2 separate regions of the Homo sapiens genome follow, and region 2 is linked to region 1. The links come from fine-mapping of genetic effects on gene expression. Tissue or cell type: monocytes after LPS. Region 1 holds a variant in brackets; the other region holds the start of a gene. All regions are shown on one strand. Distances are from middle to middle.

Region 1 (8,103 bases):
AGACCCAGTCACTACCATCAAACAGTCCAATCTAGTGGAGTAAATGAGCAAATAAAGACCCATCTCAGATTGAGTCGATGTGTCCCAAATTGATCTCACCCTCCACCCACCCCAAACCAGCTCCTTTCCTGCATCCCATATTTCAGTAAATGGCACCATCATCAATTCTGACACCCTGCCCTACACTGCTCCCTCTCCCCTTCCCCAACTTCAATACCACCTCCAACTTCTGTCCTTTAACCCCTCCTTAATATTTCTTAAATATGCCCCTTCTCTCCATTCCAAGGTCTCTCCACTGTGGCACTAGTGACACTCCCGGCCAGATAATTCTTTGCTGTGGAGGACTGTCCTATAGCATTGTAGGATGTTTAGCAGCATCGTGGCCTCTACCTACTAGATGCCAGGTACACCCCTCCAGTTTTGACAACCAAAAACGTCTGCAGACACAGCCAAATGTTTACTGGGTGGCAAAACAGCCCTGGTTGAGAAGCACTGCAGTAATTCCCACAGACATCATTCCATCACTCTCACTCAGAAAACCACCATCTCTCTCTCCTGGACTCATAGCCTCAGCCCCTTCCTGGGCCCCCTGCCTCTCTCCTCTCACCCCTTTAACCCATCCACATTAGCAGCCAGAATGAACCTTCAAAAAATGGAGATCTGACCACGTCCCTCCCTTTCCCAAAACCCCTTGGTGGCTCCTCATTGCCTTCAGAATGTGGTCCCAACTCTCCAAAATGGCTTCCAAGGCCTGCCATGATCTGGCTCATGCCAGCCTCTCCTACATCGCTTCTTTCTCCACCTTATTTTGCTCTTTATGCCCCAGTCATACCAAATTACTTGTGATTGGAAAGACACAATAAACTCTTCTGCCTCTGCCTGCTTTTAGGCAAGCTGTTCTTCTGGTTGCAATTTCCTTACTCCTCTCATAGAATTGAAGATCTTTCATTTGTCCTTCAAAACCCTCCTCAGTTGAGTCCAGGAAGCCTATTGCCATCTTATACACATGAACTCTCCCCCCCCGGGCATTCTCTGTGCATTGAATGCACATCTACATATGGCATAATGTATTTGCTATTACATCTATTTCTGCCATTAGTCTCCTTGAGGCCAGGAACTGTGGCTTATTTATTTTGTGTTCCTAGCACTCAGCACAATGCTGGGCACTCTGTAGGTGCTCAGTGACCACCTGTTACGTTGATGACTTCTTTTCCTACTAGCGGTGAGATACTTGTCTCCTTTTCACCTTACTCCTCCCTGATGCCAAGGACAGAATGTAACTCAGAGTAGGTGCTCAATTAAAGCTGATTGAATTTAGCTGAATCCCAAGGAGGGCCCCTTAATCCTGACCGCTTAACCTACAATCCCTGCAGCGTTCCCTGGATGCCAGCCCTTGTCCCTCCGCAGACCTTTGATGAGGCCACTGGCAGCACCAGGGATGCCCTGGATCTCTGTGACATTGTTTCGGGTGAAGTATTCATCACAGGTGGCGTTGAGGAAGCGAGAGGAGCAGAAAAGGCCCCATAGCCGTGTGGTCACCGTCTCATTTCCTTCCCAAGCCAGCTTGGCACAGACATCAAAGCCATGGCGAGACAGCGTGCGGTTACCCAGGAGGCAGATCCTAGGGAGAGAAACAAGGGAGGAAGGTGGGGAGCCACATAACCTTGCCCTCGCTGCACAATACAGCCACCGGGAGACCTTTTAAACACACGGACGCCAGGTCCCCATATCCAGAGTTCCTCGTTTAATTTAAATGAAGCCTGGCCATTGGCTTTTTTTTTTTTTTCTTAAGCTCCCCAAGTGATTCTAATAAGCAGCCAAGGTGGAGAAGCACCGCATTAGTGCAATGCTGTGTTTCAGCACCGTGGACAGCGGTCTCGGGGGCCGCCCTCCACCTCTGAGCAGTGGATGGAGTGGACTTGGATCTGAGTCCCTGGACCCTGTAGACTTCTGTGTCTTTTCCCATCCTGGAGGAGTTGTCCAACACTAGGAGATTGTCCCATTCCAGGAGGTTGTCCCCACCCAGGAAAGGTTTCCCTACCACAGACAGCATTCATTGCTTTGGAACTCATTCCCACTTAATTCTTCCTAAGTCCACCCTACCAGCAAGAAGTTGACTCTTACAAGGTAAATTGTTCCCTCCTCCAGAAAAGTTACCTCACTCTGAAGAGATTGCCCCCAAACTAAGAGAGATTTTCCCTCCCAAGGGAAGCTACTCCCAACCCACACCACTCTGAGATTCTGAGGGGCAGGGAGGGGGAGTTTGGCAGAGACTCTGAAACAGGGCCAGGGAGGTAGGAGGACGATTCCTTGGGCTCAGAGCAGCAGCACTCACGGGAAGTTGGGTGGGTCGAAGGCAGACTTGATGACCCCAGCATAGATGGCCAGGATGGAGAGGATGACACAACCCAGGAAGACAAGGGCAAACTTGTTGACATACTTGACACCCACAAACACCACAGTGGCCATGCAGGTGAGCACACAGGTGCCGTAAACACGCATGTTGTTCAGCATGGCTGCTGCCTCCCCACTGGCATCTTCTGCCTTGAAGATGGCCATGGCTGGGAAGAGGTAAGCCTGTGGGAAAGGGGCAGGAAGAACAGATACCTAAGTCAGCAGCCCTTTGCACTACATGCAGCGCTTTAGGAAAAAAGATGCTCATCACAGCACAGTCACAGTGGTACCAGACTGGAAAAGACATCCAGTAATAGGAGAATCGCTAAAGAAGGCATGGCCTGTCCTGCAAGGACTATGATGCAGCCATTTAAAAATGACATTATAAGGCCAGGCATGGTGGCTCACACCTGTGATCCCAGTGTTTTGAGAGGCCAAGGTGGGAGGATCACTTGAAGCCAGGATTTCAATACCAGCCTAGGCAACATAATGTGACCCCATCTCAAAAACAAATAAAAATACATTTTTTAAAAAATGACATTGCAAGGATGCTGGAAGCAATTACTTCTGTTATTTTTGTTAATTATAATTCTTAATAATTATTTATCATTTTAATAATTTCTAATAGAAAGGTGGAAATAAATGTTCATCACTCGAGGTTGGGTGAATAAATCATGATATCCCCACAGACTATGGAGCTATTAAAAAAGATGATGTAGTTGGTTTTTTATTGTTGTTGTTGGTTTTTTATTGTGGTGGTGGTTTTTTTGTTTTTTTTTTGAAATAAAGTTTTGTTCTTGTTGCCCAGGCTGGAGTGCAGTGGCACGATCTTGGCTCACTGCAACCTCCACCTCCTGGGTTCAAGTGATTCTCCTGCCTCAGCCTCCCGAGTAGCTGGGATTAGAGGTGCCCACCACCACCCCTGGCTAATTTTTGTATTTTTAGTAGAGACGGGGTTTCACCGTATCAGTCAGGCTGGTCTC[G/A]AACTCCTGACCTCAGGTGATCCAACTGCCTCGGCCTCCCAAAGTTCTGGGATTACAGGCATGAGCCACTGTGCCCGGCCAGATGACATAGATTTATATGGACTGACTTTAAAAGCTATCCATGGTACATTAGGTGAACACAATCAGGTTTTTGAAAAAGAATATGTCTCATTATCTCATTTTTATAAATGTGTATGTGAAGATATATACGTATATTAGTATACGTCTGTATGTGTTTTCATAAGTACATCAAAATGTTGTCAGTAGTTTTCCCTGAATCGTAAAAAATGTGGATAATCTATTCTTTATGCACATCTGTATTTTCTAAAATTCCCATGCTAAATATTAACGTTTACATTCTTCCAAGAGTTATTTTCACTGCAAATAATATATACAAAGAGAATATGAGTTGCTTAGGTATAGGGTTATATTTTACATAGACAGAATACAATACCACATAGAAAAACAAAAACTAGAAGGCAATACACCAAAATGTTAATGGTTATTTTCTTTGGGTGACTTATTTCCTTCTTTACATTTTTTCATGACTTGGATATTCCCCCAATTTTCTGCAATGGGCAGAATTGCATTTACAACAATTTTCAAATATTTTAATTTTTAGAAGTCATGGAGGTCTATTCTCCCTCATCATTTGCCTCCTCAGGCCTTTCATGCCCCATCCATCCTCCCTGTCCTACCCTCTTCCATCCTGCCGTGACACTAATTGCTGTGACACCTTCTAGTTCTAGGTTTCCAAGGCAGTGTGGTATAGAGGACACGTAAATGTATCAAGAAGTAGGCGTTTGGTGAATATTTGATTTTTTAGAGAGAATGGGAAGAATTCAGTTACAATGCTGTTTGTGACATGTAATCTCATTTTTTGTGAGTCTGGACCTACCATATGTTAACTATTGTAAGATTATAGGTGAATTTTATTTTCTTCTCTACCCTTATCATTTTCATCAATGAAGCTGCATCACTTGTGTAAGGCTCTGGAAGTCAGAAAGACCAAGGTTCATATTCCTTCCATTCGTTCCTTAAACTCTGAGCCTTGCTTTCCTCATCTGTAAAATGGCCACCTTTTAGCCAGGTGCAGTGGCTCACGCCTGTCATCCCAACACTTTGGGAGGCTGAGGTGGGAGGATCATTTTAAACTCAGGAGTTTGAGACCAGCCTGAGCAACATAGTGAGACCCCTATCTACAAAAAAATACAAAAATTAGCTGGGCATGGTGGTGCTTACCAGCTACTTGGGAGGCTGAACTGGTGGGGGGGATCATTTGAACCTGGGAAGTCGAGGCTGTCAGTGACTGCACCACTGCCCTCCAGCCTGGGCAACAGAGTGAGACTCTGTCTCAAAAGAAATAAAAAATAAAATAAAATAAAATGGCCACCTTTAACTCATGAGAGAGTCATGACGATAAAATAAAATGATATACTTCAAGCCTTGGGGCCTGCACAGAGTAGGGGCTTGGGACATGTCAGCTCTACTTCCTATCCACCAGGGACACCTCTTCAGCACCCATGCCCTACAGGAAGGGGATGAAGGATGGAGACCTAAGTCACCAGTCCTGACTTCAAGCACTGCCCAGCAACCTGGTTTCTCTCCATCAGTCACTATTCCCAACAGATGTCTTTATACGGATCCCTCCCCTGGTTCTTCTCTTTTGCAATCCAATAGCCACCAGCCATCTACCATTAACATCATAGAGTACCTAGCACAGTCCATGCCCCTTGGGAGGCAATCACACAATGGTAGCTGCTGCATAACATTACTGTTTTTATTTCTACCATATTTTAACTCATCAACCCACCTCTGCCGCCTATCTGAGAGCTGAGTGACCTTGAGGAAGTTATCTCACCTCTCTGAGCTTCTCATTTGTAAAATGGGCATCATAATACTTAAACCTCGTAAGGATACAAGAGAATGGCTGGAAAGCACTTGGAAGGATGCTGAGAGCTCAGTGGGGGCCTGATAAACGACAGCTGTGTATGTTACATAATTATTGTATCTTGTCTCCCCAACTAGACTGTGAACTCTTTAGAAACAGAACCACATCTGACTTTGGCCTTACTGAACCACATTTTTGGCCTCACTGAATGGCCTGGCCTATAGGAGGTGTCCAGGGAGCACTGATTAACTGACTGACAACCTGGGGTTCCACACCTCCTCCTCAGCCTCTCTTACCAGCAGGATTTCGATGGTGCCCAGGATGTACATGGCTCCTGCAAAGGTAGTGCCCAGGTAGAAGCAGAGGCCCACGGCACCCCCAAACTCTGGGCCCAGAGACCTGGAAATCATGTAGTAGGAGCCACCAGCTGCAGGGAGAATCTGGTATCAGCGAGAGGGTCGGGGGCACTGGGCTGCCGTAAGGGGTGAGGGGTGTTCAGTGACAGAGGCAGAAGGGGGTTGCTCCAGGCCTCACAGGCTTATGGGCTGCAGCCCTAGAAAGGGGACTGGTGAGAGACCCAAGCAACCACTCTGCATGGATTTTGCAGCACTAATTACCATGTTGCTAATTACCCCTTTAAGGAGGTCATGGCTCAGAAAATTGGATGGTGGAGAGGAGGGTCTCAGGATGAGTTGGGGGAGGGCTGCCCTATTCAACACCGAGAGCTGCCTCCTCCTCTGCCCCCAATAGGGCTGAAAACAGATACAGCCCAGCCCCCTAGTCTAGAATATTATCTCTCTTGGGCCTTGATGTCCCCCAAAGCCCAGGGCACTATCCCTCCTTCCACCCAGCCATCCTCCCTCCCCACAAAGCCCCAGTCACCTACCAGGCACAACACCATTCGTTGCAATTGCACTCATGGAGATGGCCGTGAGCATCGTCTGTGAGGAAAGAGATCATCAGAGCGGTGGCTGGGGTAGGGGCCGCAGTGGCCTGGGTGGGGGCCAAGCCTTATACCCCATAAACACCAGCCAAACCCACAGGTTCTCTTCTGCTGAGCTGCTCCCTGGACCTGTTCCAACTTCTACTCCTGCCAAGTCCTTCTTCTCAAGAAAACCTTATTCACCATGCGAACGGAAGGAGCCCAAGCAAGCCACAGCATCAGAGAGCTCTGGAAATCCCAGCCTGGTCTCAGACCAGCTGCCTGACCTGAGACAACTCACTTCACTTCTCCAAGCCTCAGTTTCTCCATCTATAGAATAGGAGTAACAGCTCCGACACTGCGTACCTCACATGCAGAGCTGTCTCAAGGTTATGTACGAGGACATGTAAATATATCAAGAAGTAGGTGTTTGGCGAATATTTGATTTTTTTAGAGAGAATGGGAAGAATTTGGTTACAATGCTGTTTGTGACATGTAATCTCATTTTTGTGAGTCTGGACCTGCCAAAATGTTAACTATTGTAAGATTATAGGTGAATTTTATTTTCTTCCCTACCCTTATCATTTCCATCAATGAGCTGCATCACTTGTGTAATTACACACAGAGAGATCCAGGTGAAACCTGGTTAACAGCCATCAAGGACAAGCCTGTGAGATGCAGGAAGGACCAGTCAGGCCTAATTTACTCTCAAAGATCATAAGCAGTGGTTCCTATAAAAAGCTCAGGTCTCATGCTTCCATCCTCCCACCTCCCACCCCCAGGCCTCTGCCAAGCCCCAGCTGTCAGGGGGTGGTGAGGGGAGGGGTGTCACTCACACAGGAGCAGCAGATGAACACCATGCAGAAGGACTCCATGATGCCTGCAATGCCCACCACCCAGGTGAGCCGCAGGAAGAGGATGACGCCAAAGATGTTCTGCAGGCACGGCAGGTACACGCCCATGAAGGTGCCCATGCGTGGGGCCTGCCAGGGAGGCCAGCATCAGTCTCTGCAGTCCTCATCATTACGAACACCCCAGGTGTGCTCCTCCTCCATGTTTCTCTGCCCCCACCTTCCTCTTCTCTCTATTCTCAACCCTTCATCCCTCTTCTTTCTGATTTGTATCCCCTTTCCCTCCCTCCATTCAAATCCATTTTCCTCCCCCATCCTCCCCCACCCCCCATCCGTCCCTTTTCTTCCATTTCTCATCCCCCGAGGTCCTCACCTGCACCGGCTTCTTTTTTCCACCCTCATTGTTTTCTGCCTCTTCATGCTCCCTACTTCCCTGGGGCAGGTTGGTGTAGTTGGCCAGGCCACTGAGCAAGGAGGACACCATAGGGCTGGTGTCCATCTCCTCCTATGGAGGGAGGGTGTCAGTGCTAGGAGGCTGGGGGAGCAAGTGGAGTGAGCTGGGTGGCGAAGGGCAGAGGAAGAGATGGGGACAAGGAGCACGAAACTATTCAGGTTGGGATGAGATGGGAAAGGAGGAGGAACAGGTGAGGAGAACAGGGGTAAGAATGGTAGGATGAGGAGAGGGCAGGGAGCAGAGGGAGTAAATCCCAGGAGGGAGAAGGAGGGATGGGGAGGCTCAAGGAAGAAGGTAGACTCAAGGGAGGGGTGGAGACGAGGGTATTGCTCCCTAGGGAGGGAGGGAGAGAGCAGCTGATGAATCAGGATAATGAATTGTAGGTGGGGGCCCAACAGCCCTAGCAGCCCACCTCAAACAAGGCCATGTTCTTGCCATCATACTCCTTTCCCTTCTCTGTGTCGGTGCTGTTGATGAAGGGACTGCTTTCCTTGGGGTTGCCATCACCTGAGAAGGGAGAGGGGTCAGGGATCTGGAACCAATCAGTTGTTGTCCAACCACCTGGGCATACAGTGGTGTAGCCACAGTAGCCCTCTGAATCTCAGTTC
Region 2 (8,103 bases), 79 kb before region 1:
GAAAGTCTTGGATCCTTCATAATCAGGCGAGGAAGATGGAGAAGCTGGGATCCCTAGTTCAGGGTAGACAGAGTTTTACCTGGTAGAGAGGGAACCAGAACATTCTGACAGTGAAGCAGGGCTGGGAAATGGGTCGTTTCAGATTTGAGTTTACAGTTAACATATGGGGTCTGCGTCTGCCACCAAAGCAAAGGGGGACTCCATGATGGGGCTAGAGGGTTGGCATCTCACCTGGCTGGCACAAAGAACAGCACTGACTGTTTATTAGGTACTGTTTTTCTCTGCATGCAGTGGGTGGTTCTGGATGGACCTAAAAACAGAATTGTGCAATTTGAAGGGATCTTGAAATCTCCGTTGCAACTTCTTCAGCAGAAAGGTAAAAGTCATCCAGGACAGAGGCTGCAAACTGAAGTGCAAGTCAAAACAGAAAGTGGAACCTGCATGATATTTGGCATGTTTGTTTTCAAGTAAATTGTCAACTGAGCTGATTATAATCGCACCCAGAGAATCATTCTGGTATTTTTACAAAGCAATGGTACTGTAAACTCACAATATTCTCTGAACAGAACAGAATTCCTTGGGGCTTGATGCCTGAGTCATTCCTCTTCCCAAAGATCCCATAGGATATGGGGACTCCAGCAGCTCCCCTGGAGTCCTGAAGCTGGCTGACTTCAGCTGGTCCCAGTGCTGTTTGGGGCTATGTTTAGCACTTGGCCTCTTCCTCCTATTCTTCTGCTTCCCTTCCTGCTCCTTTCCAAAGCCCATCATGTTTTCTTCCTCCAACTCCTCATCATCTGTTCATCCAGCCCTTCCCTCATAAAATGCTAGAATGTAAAGCTGGAAGGGTAAACTCACACTTTCATTTTACAGATAGTTGAGACTGAGCACCAAAGAGGAGGGTCACTTGCCCAGAGTCTCACAGTGACAGAGTCCAAATGAGAACTCAGGTCTCAATGCTCCTCTCTCCATCAACTTGTGTTTCATCTTCACCATTTTACTACATCCAGGTACCACCCATGCTATTAATTACTTATTGTTAATTTCAATACTTTTATTTTATTTTTTGAGACAGAGTCTCGCTCCATCGCCCAGGCTGGAGTGCAGTGGCATCATCTCAGCCCACTGCAACCTCTATCTCCTGGGTTCAAGCAATTCTCCAGCCTCAGCCTCCTGAGTAGCTGGGATTACAGGTGTGTACCACTATGCCCGGCTAATTTATGTATTTTTAGTAGAGACAGGGTTTCACCATGTTGGCCAGGCTGATCTAAAACTCCTGACCTCAAGTGATCTGACTGCCTTGGCCTCCCAAAGTGCTGGGATTACAGGCACAAGCCACCGTGCCTGGCCGGTACATTTACTTTAAATGTAAACCTCACATCATTGCCAAGAGACAAGAACCAGTATCACTTCTCATAAATAAAAGGTAACCCTAAAAATAAATTCTGGGGAAACAAAACAAGGTTATTAAAACCCAGCTGGTTGTTTGCTTGTTGAAGGCCCTCCCAGGCCTGCTCTTGATTTTTGTTTTAAAAGAAGGATTAGCAAGCCTTTGAGAGGCATTAACTCTATTCTAGCTCCAGAGACTTCCTCTTTGAAAAAATGAGAAGGATTTTTAAAAGAACTGTAAAGTAAGTGTATGTTTAATTCTATGTCCATGTGCTCCTTAAAACTGTCCCACAGTTTGGGAACAGCCAGTGAAAAGAACACAAGTTTGAGAGTCAGACAGCTTTAGACTCCAGTCCTGACTTTGTAACACTTACTAGTTATTTTGCTTCTCTTAGCCTCAGTTTCTCTATCTCTAAAATGGGAGTAATAATGCCTGCCCTGCAGGTTGGATTACGAAGATAAGAAAGAATACATGTATATGGCCTAGCACAGTGTCAGGAACATAGTAGGTGCTCATTAAATGGCAATTTTAATCATCATTCATTTGTTTCTGCTTGCATGATATATGGCAAGCAGCCCGGCTACCTGGCTGGCTGTCCAGAATCCTACCTAACTGGTGGCTCTCATTCAACCTGGGTATCTCAGCAAATTACTTACAGAAATGTGTCTTACCCAAAATGGGAAAGGAAGTAGAAAAGGCTACTGCCCCCCACCAGCTCATTGCAAGACACCATCCTGTGAACGTGGAGCTCCCACACTCCCAAAGATAGGAAAGTCCTTGATACCATCTTCAAACACATGAGAAATAAAACGCTCCCCTAAAAGTCTGTCAATCTCCAGTTCTCACTCCCCATAGTTCTGGTCCTTCTGCCACAAAACAGCTCAGGACCAGAGCTTGGAGACTCTCACTATCTGAGAGGCAGGCTCGGGAATCATGCAGATGTAGATTCACAACCAGGTTCTTCCATTAGCTAGCTATGAGACCTTTGGCAAGACAATCCCCCTTTCTGAGCCTCAATTTGCCCATCTGTATAATGGGGGAGTTGTGAGAAATCAGACAAAGAAAACAGGCAGTGTTTGGCTCAGAGCCTGACACACAAGAAGCCCTCAATAGATAGCTTCTGACATTGTTGTCACAGCCCAGCCTCTACCTGGAGCCAAAGTTGGGAGTTATGAGGGCAAACTCTGCTCTTGAGAAGCCTGGATCACACCCTTCACCCCACCTCCTCTGGCTCTTTCTCCACTCCTACCACAAGGGCCCCCCTTTACCTCTTTCCAGCTCCGCCCTCCCCCTGCCTCCCTGTTCCCTAAGAGCCATTGCTTCAGGTGAAAGTGAAAGCTGTGGGACCAAAGCAGCCTCCCCACTCCCTCTCTTCCCTTGCTGCTTCCCTTGCTTTCCTTGATACCATGGGTCATTCCTGCCCAGGCTTCAGGCAGGAATCTACAGCCCTCTAAAGTAGGGGGAGGCCAGAGGGGCTGGGATGAAGGAGCCAGGTACTTGGGGGATTCCCAGCCTCCAGAATGAGGAACTACAAAAATACATTTAAACAAAAAGTGAGTCAAGTGTAGGCTTCTGAAAATCCCGGAGATATGCTTGGTTGGCTCTGAGCCCCTCTGGTGCCTGGAGAAACCCCTGGTTTCTCCAGCCCTCTGATCACCAGCCCTGTCAGAGCCAACCAGAACTCTGGTCTCCTAACCCTTTATTGTGTCCCATAAACTGTTCATCTCCCCAGGGGTCTCCTATGTCATCTTAAATTCAGGAGAAAAAGGCAAAGCCCTGGGGATTCCTCCTAGGTTGGAACACCCAAGATACGGTTCGGGGTGGAAGGCGATGTTAAAAGCTCCTTGCCTTCTCACAAAAGTACCTGGGCCTCTGCACCCATCTCTTGTTCCCACAAGATGCCCTGGAAGAAGGCAGCCCCAGCTGGCAAGGAGATGATAACTACTTACAGAGGCTGGCATCTGTCCACAATAAGAAGGGGACAGGAAACGGGCCAGACCCGCCCCTTCCCTTGGTCCGCCTCACTTCCCGCCCTCTGAACCCCCTACCAGTCTCTGTGTGGCCAGCCTCTGAGGCTCCCTAAACCCGTCCAGGCCGTCTAGGCACGCTTGGGCAGCCAGTGCCTTCCCTGAGCGGCCCCTGTAGGCCGCTCCCGGGACCCCAGCCCGGGAGAAGAGAGAGGCAGCCCACCCCATTCAGCCAGGAGCGGGGGCACCTTGCCCAGCTCCCACCCACCCTCCTGCCCCCACAAAAATCAGCCAGGAAGGCCTCTTCCCCGAAGTCTTCCTTCCCTTTCCTTCTCATTCCCCACTCCCAACTCCCGTCTGGTCGGGGCAAAAACAACTCACAGCGGTCAGCAAGCAGCCCCAGAGGACGCACTGCAGAGGCAGACGAACCATAGCGAGGTGAGACCAGGCGGCAGGACCACTGGGCGCCCGAGCGAGGCCTCTGCTGACTCCCCTGCCCCAGCCTTGGCCCCGCCCAGGAAAGGGGCGGGGTCTTCAAAGACCAATCGCGGTCCACCTATCGGGGGGGCGGAGCCCCCAGCAATTCACCGCGCAGGAGTTTCCCCAGAACATTCCCACAAGTCTAATTCCCCCGGGAGTTTAGGGACGCATCTTGCTGTGTACGGGAGGAGGCATGGTCCCAGAGACAGCTCTTCTTCTTTGCCCCCAGGTCCCACAAAGGCCAAGCCGAGGCGGGCTAGGAGCTAGCCTGCTTCCTGCGACCGGAGAGAGATCCCATGGGTGCTGGGGCCTGCCACAGGGACCCTCACGGTTTTCCCCTCCCTGCCCCGCTCTCCGCTGCCTCTAGGTATCCTGGCAGAACCGAAAGAGGCTCCACTGCGGAGAGGCCTGAGGAAGTTCCCCCCACACCACCACGCAGAAAACGGGAAGGCCACAGCTGGGGTATGGGGAGGCGTTTCAAGGAAGAGTTTCCCAACTCAGAATTTCGCTCTCTTTCAAAGGAAATTCCCTCGTGTGGGCGCGTCGTCTCAACTTCCCATCCATTCATCCATGCATCCATGCGTCCTCACCTCATTCCATTCCATCCCACCTCCCACCCAGCACCTGGAGACAGGCATTTATTAAGAGTGGGGCCGGGCGCGGTGGCTCACGCCTGTAATCCAGCACTTTAGGAGGCCGAGGCGGGCAGATCACTTGAGGTCAGGAGTTCGAGACCAACCTGGCCAACATAGTGAAACTCCGTCTCTACTAAAAATACAAAAATTAACCGGATGTAGTGGCGTTCGCCTGTAATCCCAGCTACTCGGGAGGCTGAGGCAGGAGAATCGCTTGAACCGCAGAGGCAGAGATTGCAATGAGCCGAGATCGTGCCACTGCACTCCAGCCTCGAAGGCAGAGCAAGACTCAGTCTCAAAAAAAAAAAAAATAAATAATAAATAAAAATAAAAATAAAGGTGGGGGCCAGGCGCGGTGGCTTACGCCTGTAATCTAACACTTTGGAAGGCCAAAAAGGGAGATTGCTTGAGGCCAGGAGTTCAAGACCAGCCTGGCAACATGGCAAGACCCCCATCTCTACAAAATAAAGAAATTTTTAAGTTAGCCAGGCATGGTGGCAAACACCTGTAGTCCCAGCTACTCAGGAGGCTGAGGCAGGAGGATCGCTTGAGCTCAAGAAGTCAAGGTTGCAGTGAGCCATGATTGCAATGATTACATCACTGCACTTCAGCCTGGGCGACAGTGCAAAACTCCATCTCAAAAAAAAAAAAAGAGTGGGCCAGCCTTTTGTGGCATCATAAAACACTTTAAGTATGTTAGGAAACTCGGGACCCTCTCATTTTGCAGAAACACACACACTTGTGCCTACATTTCCTGGGTTCATGAACTCTGAAGACGTGCTTTTGTTTTTTTGTTTTTTGTTTCGTTTTGTTTTTTGGGTGTTTGTTTGGTTTTTGGTTTTTGGGTTTTTTTTGACAGAGTCTCATTCTGTTGCCCAGGCTGGAGTGCAGTGGCATGATCTCGGCTCACTGCAACCTCTGCCTCCTGGGTTCAAGCAATTCTCCTGCCTCAGCCTCCCGAGTAGCTGGGATTACAGGCTGGCGCCACCACGCCCAGCTAATTTTTGTATTTTTAGTAGAGACGGGGTTTCTCCACGTTGGCCAGGCTGGTCTCAAACTCCTGACCTCAGGTGATCCGCCTGCCTTGGCCTCCCAAAGTGCTGAGATTACAGGCATGAGCCACCGCACCTGGCCCTCAAGATGTTCTTGAACCAGTGTTAACACTCTGCTTTGCAGCATGGAACACCTGGGTTCTGGTGCAGCCTCTGCCTCTGAAGGACTGTGTTCCCTTAGGCCTAAATTTTTCTCCAAGGAAAACTTAGGAGCTTGAACTAGACAACGGTTGAGGTGATGACCCTCCAAGCTCTCAATTTCTGGAAGAGGACAAGAGGCCAGACCTCACAGATCAGGGAGGATGGAAGAGGAGGACACTTCTAACCCCATTCTCATGGCTTCTGCTGTTAAGGGCACATTTGCAAGTCTTGTGGATTCTGCCTCTAGGATCCATCCCTTATTTTCTGTCACCTCTGCCACTGCCCTAATTCAGAGGGTGCCATCTTTCATCTGGACTGTCCCAACAGCCTCTCTCATTCCACAGGATTTATTGAGCACCTACTATGTGCCAGGCAACTCTTTACACTGCTGCGATTCTCTTGATAAACTCCAGATCTGATCGACTGGGACACTTTCCTGCATAAAAGCCTCTTTGGGTTTCCCTGCACCCTCAGGATGATCCAAATTTCTTATCCTGGCAAAGCACACCCTTCCTCACTCAGCCCCAACCTCTCTTTCTATGCTTACTTCCTGCCACGTCCTCCCATGCACACTGGCTTCAGCCTCTCCCCACTTCCCAGGCACACAATCTTTTTTCCTTACGGTTTATCTCATTGCTCTTGATGTTTCCTTCCTTTCCTTCTCCTTTCTTAAACAGTTTAAATGTTGCCTCCTCTTACACCTTCCCCAACTCCCTGAGGCAGAGGTAGGTACTCTATCCCACCCTGCCTCCTCCCCTGTGTTGCCACAGCATTTAGCATGCCAGCTCATAACTCCTTCTGCCTGGTCCCATTTGACTGTGAGCTCCCTGAGGGCAGGACTGGATCTATCCCAGTCCTAGGTACATAATAGGACACCAATATATGGGTGCTGAATGAATGAATAAATGAATGAGTGGGTTCAGCAACTTCTCATCCTAAGTACAGCCTCCAATCATGACAAAGAGTTGGTGGCAGGGGGTGCGAAGCTGGTAATCTCAACACAGACCTCAAGCTGCAGTGGCCTCTTGAGAATGGTGGTCAGATACCAAAAGGCCAGAAACTCTTGAAATCAGGGTCCAGGGAACTTCATTAAAGCCACCCAAACATGCCCAGGATGGAGAGAAGATTAAAATATCTTTTCCCTTTTTAACATACTTTGAAAAAAACAAGCACGGTTTTAAATCCTTTGAGAGAGGGGTGTTACTATAATGATTTCAGCCATTACTTATTCTTTATTTGCTTGATTCCAAAATTGGGCCTTTCACAAAACTGCCTGGGGAAGCAAGTACACAGAATTAAAACATTAATTATATTATATAAAACATATCATAGCAGCAATTAAAGCAGCTTAAATTAATGTGTGAAGGAATAAATGTTAGCCTTCGGGTTGCCCCATGGGGCGAAGACCAGATAAGATAAAGGGAAGATATTTTAGTATATACATATCCTGAGGAGGCATGTGCTGGTGGGCACAGGCCCAGAGAAGGCCTAGAATCTTGTTGAGCTGAGAAGAGTGTGCTGGAGGAGGAAAGCGAGAAGATGATTTAAGGGAAAGTGGCAATATTCGGAGGCCAATCAAAAAGGGAACAATGAAGGGTTCTGCAATAGGAATGGGGCAAAGGACATTCAAAAGAGTAGGGAGCCAGGATTTTGGAAACTCAGAGATGAAATGGCCTTTGTAGGGAGGTGGGTTCACAGTGCCAGGTGAATGGGTGAGGAGCATGCCTAGAGGTCCAGTGTCCACAGCGCTGCCAGAATCTGGCATCCAGAGTGTTCTGTCTAATATGCAAATCCAATTGTGTTGCTCCAAGGTTTAAAGTGGCTCTCCAGGGCCCTCACCCCTTAAGCTTGCAGAGCTGCAAGGCCATGGGCCTCCTGGTGTACATCTCTAAGCATCCTTCCTGCCTTCCCCTTCATGCTCCAGCCCCACTCCCCAGATGTCCCGTGCTGTCACCTCTGCCTGGAGAGCTCCCTTCCCACTGCCACTCTCCTTTCACCTGGCCAACTCTTTCTCACCCTTCAAGGTCCATCTCAGGCAACCCTCCTCTGGAAATCTCTCTCTAACAACCAACCTATCCCCCTGTGCTCTCTCAGAACCTGGGGCAGCTTTACCCAAGCAAGACTCTAGCCCGACCACACTGTATTTCAATTTTTCTGTTTACTTGTGGAGCCAGTGTATTGAGGCGATTCAACTCTGTGGGGTATAATGATGAAGATTTTCTCCCCTAATCTCTGCCTTCAGCCATGCTGTGTTGAATCTCCCTTTTCCATCCCTTAATGACATTTTGGGCAGATTGCATTACTTTTGGATCACTTTCTGTTGTTAAACCTCCATCCTTTAGACCTTTATTCTCAAACTCAATTTAAATCTCATTTTATCTTCTCTCTTACTCATTCAAGAGTTAACTTGAGCCAGGACCCTGCCTGCTAGGAGGAAAAGG

Direction of the effects. Alleles are on the strand shown, and positions count from the first base shown. SD is a standard deviation of normalised expression in the study named.
With allele A in place of G in region 1, the expression in monocytes after LPS of the gene that starts at base 3,816 in region 2 is higher (moderate effect, 0.47 SD a copy in Fairfax 2014).

What was found. PIP is the estimated chance that this variant, and not a neighbour inherited with it, causes the effect.
Region 2: CD40 starts here. The variant in region 1 is fine-mapped to the expression of CD40 in monocytes after LPS (Fairfax 2014, PIP 0.95).

Annotation. Positions count from the first base shown.
Region 1 is chr20:46,034,847-46,042,949 of GRCh38, reverse strand. It overlaps SLC12A5 (solute carrier family 12 member 5), which reads right to left. Exons shown (of 26, transcript NM_020708.5): 2 at 7,908-8,002; 3 at 7,415-7,546; 4 at 7,027-7,173; 5 at 6,155-6,209; 6 at 5,565-5,695; 7 at 2,336-2,577; 8 at 1,410-1,621. Among named protein-coding and RNA genes, the nearest start is that of SLC12A5, 9.7 kb to the right of the region's middle. RefSeq lists silencers at 1,763-1,963, 1,746-2,040. The variant G/A (reference allele first, on the strand shown) is at 3,378.
Region 2 is chr20:46,114,027-46,122,129 of GRCh38, reverse strand. It overlaps CD40 (CD40 molecule), which reads right to left and starts at 3,816. Exons shown (of 9, transcript NM_001250.6): 1 at 3,736-3,816; 2 at 232-310. The coding sequence starts at 3,786. RefSeq lists enhancers at 1,460-1,549, 2,594-2,943, 3,954-4,013, 3,779-4,595, a silencer at 3,818-4,037 and a cis regulatory region at 2,537-4,634.